Homo sapiens: one gene and its partner. The protein of the gene in region 1 interacts with the protein of each later gene in a pairwise test. Each region holds a gene or a part of one and is shown in the gene's direction. Other genes may lie near its edges. The genes, in order: TNFRSF10C and LRSAM1.

What was found.
Region 2: the proteins of TNFRSF10C (region 1) and LRSAM1 interact in a two-hybrid assay, tested with the Homo sapiens proteins (one large-scale study listed by IntAct).

Annotation. Positions count from the first base shown.
Region 1 is NC_000008.11:23,105,650-23,109,673, forward strand, and holds part of TNFRSF10C (tumor necrosis factor receptor superfamily member 10C precursor), read left to right. Parts: intron 1-4,024. UniProt on the Homo sapiens protein: Receptor for the cytotoxic ligand TRAIL. Lacks a cytoplasmic death domain and hence is not capable of inducing apoptosis. May protect cells against TRAIL mediated apoptosis by competing with TRAIL-R1 and R2 for binding to the ligand.
Region 2 is NC_000009.12:127,458,010-127,461,509, forward strand, and holds part of LRSAM1 (E3 ubiquitin-protein ligase LRSAM1), read left to right. Parts: intron 1-993; coding exon 994-1,062; intron 1,063-3,163; coding exon 3,164-3,248; intron 3,249-3,500.

The DNA of each region.
Region 1 (4,024 bases):
CCAGGCTGTACTGAGAGGCCACAGTCCCAGTTCTGGTCCTCTGTCGTGTATCCAGGAGTGGCAGGGCAGTGAGGCTCTAGCTTCTAGGTCAGGGATGGGGACAGTGGGGACAGTGCCATGCCCCGAGCCTCTGCCGTTGGGCAGCTGGTATCCTGCTTCCAGCCAGAGAATGCACATCTTCATGTAGTGGATTTCCTAACAACCCGGGGAGATGAAGGTAGGTTGTTTTTCCTGTTTTACAAGTGGTAAAATGAGATTCAGGGCTAGAGTTCTCTGAGCAGCTGCTTCTCTGATCTCTGTCCTGCCCTTGGCCTCTGGGAGCTCTTATGGTTCCTCAGCAGAGTTCACAGGGCTCTTGGAGCCTGTCCTTCGGCCTTGAGCTGAGGCCACAACTGCGCGCACTTCATAGGCTTGAGGGGAAAGTGATTCATCCAGGAAGTAAACAGTGAGCCCTTTACTCTGAGAACACCTGTGCCTGGAGTCCGCCGGAGTTTGGGAGGACAAATGAACCCCATGTGAATCCTGTTCCCTGGAGCCCGCAGTGTGGTGGGAGAGGTGACCCAGGGATTATATAACTAATAGGAGGTAGCATGAAGGAGGCCTGAGATCTCACTACCCTTGCCTCCCCCTCCTCCAGAGAGGCTGTGCTGGAGAGAGGCCATGCTGTTGCAGGGCCATAGGATGTGGTACTGTTGGCCTGGAAGATGTGGTTTGATTACAGTCACCATTGAGGGTCAGGGAGGGGAGCGAAGCTCTCCTTTAGATGCCCCCCCACCCGATTTTTTTTTTTTTTTTTTTAGCTGGGCCTGAGAATTTGATTCACCTAAGAGAGGTCCACAGGAGACAAGCACACACATTTATTTAATTCAAGTTTTACCTGGCATGGAAGAACCTGTGAGAGTCAGTTACTTATTTACTGAATTAGACCAAGTAACTCATGAAGAAGCAAGTAACTATGTGAGGAGCTAAAAAGATGAGAGTGGATCCATTCTAACATGGTCTGCACAGTACCCTCTTGGCCTCGACTTCTCATCCTTAAAAATAAGGAAATTGTCAGCTGGGTGCGGTGGCTCACGCCTGTAATCCCAGCACTTCGGGAGGTCAAGGCAGGTGGATCACGAGGTCAGGAGATCGAGACCATCCTGGCTAACACAGTGAAACCCCGTCTCTACTGAAAATACAAAACAATTAGCGGAGTGTGGTGGCGGGTGCCTGTAGTCCCAGCTACTGGAGAGGCTGAGGCAGGAGAATGGTGAGAACCTGGGAAGCAGAGCTTTCAGAAAAAAAAAAAAAGGAGATTGTCCTATGTTTCCCTGGGGACTTTCATCTCCTGCTTTTAGGAAACACAAAAGAGGTCAAAGGATCTTCTTGCACCTGTTGTTTTTCAATAGCCTTTAATTCATAATAGTCAATTGACCAGGGTGGGCAGGGTGCGATGGCTCACACCTGTAGTCCTGCCAAGACAGGCAGATCACTTGAGCCCAGGAGTTCAAGACCAGCCAGGGCAACATAGCAAAACCCGGTCACAACAACAACAACAAAAAACCAAACAAACAGAAAAACAGAAAAACACAGAAAATTATGTCGTGTGAAGGAATCCACACAGAATGCTTACCATCTGATTCCATTTCTCATTAAAATTCGACCAATCTATTCTGACAAAAAGCAGAATTATTGCTGGGGACATAGGAGCAAAGCGGAAGAGAGGATTACATTGAAGAATGAAGAAATTCTGGGGTGTGGTGGACATGTCATTTTCTTATCGTGGTGGTAGTTCCACAATGTATACACACGTCTCAATCTACCAAACTACATGCTTCAAAAATGTACACTTTGTTTCATGCCCATTATACCTCAATGAATCCATTTTTAAAAAACCTTCAATAGAATGTAAACACTTGAGTGTATACTGTATTCCCTATAGCACTTGCACATAGATCATGGAAATAGGTATGCATAAAAAGTCAGTTTATCCAATTAAAATGGAATTCTAAAAGGTAATTAACATTAAAATGTGCAGGGGGAAAAGGAGTAAAAAAATTAGACTAGACAATCATAGCTTAAATGGTAAACTTACAGGTCTATTTCAACTATATCAATTATTGCACTCCCTGTAAATCCACTGAGCACTACAGTTCAATGGTAGAAATGTTTGGAAGGGCTGAGAAAGCAAGACTCAACTATATCTTGTCTATATGAGATGGGCCTTAAAAGGAAGACACAGATGTTGTCTGTTGAAAGTAAATAGATGGAAAAAGATACACCATGCAGAGTGTAAGGCCAAGAAAACTGCCATGGCTATCTCAGTATCAGATGAAGTTGATTTTGTTAGCGGTGGATGAGATCCGAGTTACCCTACGTTGAAGGCGGCGAATCCGTATGCGTCCACAGCACCTTCAGCTCTTCGCCTCCTGAGAAGAAAGAACTGGTTTGAGGGGCATAAGGCAGAAGCAGAGATGGAGGCAAGTTTCAGAGCAGGAGTGAAAGTTTATTAAAAAGCTTTAGAACAGGAAGGAAAGGAAGGAACAGGAAGGAAAGGAAGGAACAGAAAGAAAAGAAGGAAAGTACACTTGGAAGATGGCCAAGCAGGTGACTTGAGAAACAGTACGCAGCCGGACCGCCTGAGTTGGGGTTTTATAGGTTGGCCTACTTCCAGGATCTTGCCTTACTTCTCCCCACTCCTGAAATCTTATTGGGAAGCTGCTGATCAGTTTCAAGTGTTTTCTATGTATTAGGAAACTGCTTTTTTCTGGCATCGGCTGTAACCAGTTATTACTTTAGAGACACAGTTATCAACTACCTGATGGTCGCCCAACACTGCTGGTGTCAGAAGCGGGGACCCCTCTCCTGTCCTGCTCATACCTAACTAGCTGCCTACTGTGACAATTTTAGGACATTGAATATTATGGGAGATGAAAAGGGACCTTTGTAGTTAAAAGGGTTAATTCTTCAAGGAGTATAATAACAACAAATTGTATATGCCTAGTAATACATCTTCAAAACACATGACACAAAAATAGAATTAAAAAGAGATTAACTCAGCTGTTTCTCTGCACTTGCTAGCATGATTAGATGAAAATGCCAGTAAAGTGGCAAGCGATCTGCACACTATCAACCACCTTGATTTAACTGACATTTAAAGAGCAGGAGTGGAACATTCACTGAACACTCATTCCTTTCTATGCTCATGATACTTTCACCAAGATAGACCAGGTTCTGGGCTATAAAACACACAATATGATCTCTAAACTTAATGAAACTAAACTGGAAATCAGTAACAATATCCACAGAGAATTCTAAAATTTTGATATTGAACAACACACTTCTAAAAATCTGTGGTTCAGACAGGAAATCAAAAGGGAAGGTAAGATATTTCAAAGTAAGTAATAATGACAATATAACACATCAAAAGTGGTGCGAAATAGCTAACAGTGCTCAGGGTGAAATATACAGCTTTCAATGTTTGTATTAAAAAACTGGGGGTTAGGGAGATGGGGAGTTACTGCTGAAGGGTATGTAGTTCCTTTCTGGAGTGATAAAAATATTCTAAAATTGATTATAGTGATGATTGCATAGCTATGAGTATATTAAAAACTGCTGAAGTGTGGACTTTAAATGGGTGAATTATATGAATAATCATAATTATTAATTATGTGAATTGTGTCTCACTAAAGCTGTCAAAAAAAGAAAAAACGTGAAAATTATGGGCCGGGCACGGTGGCTCACATCTGTAATTCCAGCACTTTGGGAGGCCGAGGAGGGTGGATCACGAGGTCAGAAAATCGAGACCATCCTGGCTAACACGGTGAAACCCTGTCTCTACTAAAAATACAAAAAATTAGCCAGGCGTGGTGGCGGGCACCTGTAGTCCCAGTTACTTGGGAGGCTGAGGCAGGAGAATAGCATGAACCTGGGAGGTGGAGCTTGCAGTGAGCCGAGATTGTGCCACTGCACTCCGGCCTGGGAGACAGCGAGACTCCATCTCAAAAAAAAAAAAGAAAAAGAAAAAGAAAATTATGGCCTG
Region 2 (3,500 bases), on another chromosome or scaffold:
TCCATAGATATGGAGGGTACCTGTGTGTGCACATGTATAAATATTTCTCCAAGGCCTTTTTTGTGCATTTTCATTTTTAAAAAATTAGCAGTCAGTCGTGGTGGCTCACACCCATAATCCTAGCACTTTGGGAGGCCAAGGCGGGTGGGTCACTTGAGGTCAGGAGTTCAAGACCAGCCTGGCCAACATGGTGAAACCCCGTCTCTACTAAAAATACAAAAAATTAGCCGGGCGCGGTGGCGGGCGCCTGTAGTCCCAGCTACTCGGGAGGCTGAGGCAGGAGAATGGCGTGAACCCGGGAAGCGGAGCTTGCAGTGAGCCGAGATTGCGCCACTGCAGTCCGCAGTCCGGCGTGGGCGACAGAGCGAGACTTCGTCTCAAAAACAAAACAAAACAAAACAAAACAAAACAAAAAAAAACACCAGCAGAGCATGTTGGCTTGTGCTTGTAATCCCAGCTACTTGGGAGGCTGAGGCACGAGAATCACTTGAACCCAGGAGGTGGAGGTTGCAGTGAGCTGAGGTCGTGCCACTGCACTCCAGCCTGGGTGACAGAGTGAGACTCTGTCTCAAAATAAAACAAAATAAAATAAAATTAAATTAAAAATTAGCAAGTACAGTTAAGCAAAGGGGGAAACATCTATAATTTTACACTGTGGAGTACCACTGTCAATATTTTATCGCATATTTGAAAGTCTTACATATTTATACAATGGAGTGTTTCTTTTTAACATATTAGTATCTAGGCATACTGTTTTATAGCATAGTTTTTCAGTTAACAGTAAAAATAAATATACATAAAATAAGAAAATGGTATAATGGTTTGAGAAGGAAAATGAGGCGGGAATGATCAACACTGAGTGGGAAAGGAGTGGCAGGCACTCTGTTTCTGCACTGGGGGTGTGAGGTGGCCCCAGCCCCTCCTCAGCGCTCTGGAGCCCGGAGTCTGAGGGACTTTCTCACTTGGAGACTCACAGGGGTCTTTCTTCTGCAGGTTCTAGATCTCCACGATAATCAGCTGACAGCCCTTCCTGACGATCTGGGGCAGCTGACTGCCCTCCAGGTAAGGCTGCAGAAACAGAAACCCACCTCGGATGGCCTTAGTGAGACCAGGCAGTCACTCAAGCCTGGAATGTTCTGGCCGGGCTCCAGCCAGTGGAAGCAGGCTGCAATCAGTGCCAGCTCCACCCTCCCCTTGGCCCTTTGGGGTTTTTTTTTTTTTTTTTGAGGCAGTGCCTCACTGCGTTGCCCAGGCTGGGGTGCAGTGGCGCCATCAGAGTTGCAGAGGCAACCTCTGCCTCCCGAGTTCAAGCGATTCTCCTGCCTCAGCCTCCCTAGTAGCTGGGATTACAGGTGTGTGCCACCACTCCCAGCTAGTTTTTGTATTTTTAGTAGAGATGGTGTTTCGCCTTGTTGGCCTGACTGGTCTCAAACTCCTGACCTCAAGTTATCCACTCACTTTGGCCTCCCAAAGTGCTGGGATTACAGGTGTGAGCCACCACGCCTGACCAATTGTACCACTTTGAGCCACAATAAATACCTTGGTGTAGGACTTTTTGTATGTGTATTTTTTTTTTCTCACTCTTGTCACCCAGGCTGGAGTGCAGTGGCACCATCTCAACTCACTGCAACATCTGCCTCCCGGGTTCAAGAGATTCTCATGCCTCAGCCTCCTGAGTATCTGGGATTACAGGCACACGCCACCACACCTGGACAATTTTTGTATTTTCAGTAGAGACTTGTTTTCACCATGTTGGCCAGGCTGACCTCAAACTCCTGGCCTCAGGTGATCCACCCGTCTTGGCCTCCCAAAGTGCTGGAATTACAGGCATGAGCCACTGCACCTGGCCAGTAGGTGTATTTTTATAGAATTGCTGCATTCACTAATTTGTAACTTTTGGATACCTGACAATAACTCATAGCATCCTTTGGTTCATCAAATATTCATCTTATTATTTTTAATGGCTACTTAGCTTTCCATTGCATCATTTTTTGTTTGTTTGTATTTTTGAGATAGAGTCTCGCTCTATCACCAGGCTGGAGTGCAGTGGTGTGATCTCGGCTCACTGCAATCTCCACCTCCCGGGTTCAAGCGATTCCCCTGCCTCAGCCTCCTAAGTAGCTGGAATTACAGGCGCCCACCACTATGCCTGGCTAATTTTTTATATTTTAGTAGAGACGGGGTTTCACCATGTTCACCAGGATGGTCTCAATCTCCTGATCTCATGATCCACCCACCTCAGCCTCCCAAAGTGCTGGGATTACAGGTGTTAGCCACCGTGCCTGGCCCCCATTGCATCTATTTTTAATGGTTAGTGTGTCATCCTGCTAGCCTTGCTCACCTCGAGGTACCACCTTCTGGAGGGAGCACAGCTTCGGAATCCAACAAGCCCTGGTTCAGTCCCAGCACCACTGCCGGCCTGAGGCCTTGGGTGGATCACACGGCCTTAGGGCAGCCTTTTCCTTAAGGCCAGGGGAACTAGAGCCTCCTGTGCTGCCTCCCCAGATCCCCAAGTCTGTAGTCCCCTTCTCCCTCCTTCCCTGATGGTGGGGCAGTTACTGAGCATTTTGTGGTCGGTGTAAGTGCTGGAACCTCAGCCAGAAGGGGTTCAAGGCCTGGCTGTGCTCTCCTGAGCACGTGACTTTGCCACCCTGAGCTTCAGTTTTTTTCCTGTCTCCAGCGGAAACAAGAATTTCTGTCTTCCTCAAGGGCCGGTAGGGGGAGATAAGAGCTTGTGTGTGTAGTGCCTGGGTGCCCTGGCCCGGCAGGGCGAGGGGTGCGGGGGTCATCACTGTGGTCTGTGTGTGGGTTCTCGTGTCACCTCTTCCTGTTTCTTTCTTTTTTTTTTTTTTTTTTTTTTTTTTGAGACGGAGTCTCACTCTGTTGCCCAGGCCGGAGTGCAATGGTGCAATCTCAGCTCACCGCAACCTCTGCCTCCTGGGTTCAAGCAATTCTCCTGCCTCAGCCTCCCGAGTAGCTGGGACTACAGGTGTGTGCCACCATGCCCAGCTAATTTTTGTATTTTTAGTAGAGATGGGATTTCACTATGTTGGCCAGGCTGGTCTTGAACTCTTGACCTTGTGATCCACCTGCCTCGGCCTCCCAAAGTGCTGGGATTACAGGCATAAGCCACTGCGCCTGGCTGCCTCTTCCTCTTTCTTAGGTCTTAAACGTGGAAAGGAATCAACTGATGCAGCTCCCACGTTCCATTGGGAACCTGACCCAGCTCCAGACTCTCAATGTTAAAGGTAGGGACCAAGAAGCCGTGTCCGTGTGACCCTCCATCAGCTCTGGGCCATCCTGGCCGGGATCCACAGGCTGCCCCGCCCGGGAGCCATTGAGCAGGAGGGCAGCCAGTCTCCGGGGGTCGCTGTAAATGGACTGACCCCTGCTGGGTCAGCTGTCTTCATGGTAACCAGAGACAGGCTGTCTGGAGGGTTCCTGTGGCTCCTGAGAGCCAGGGCCGTATGGCCGTATGGGGAGGAGGGCAGCTGGGCCCC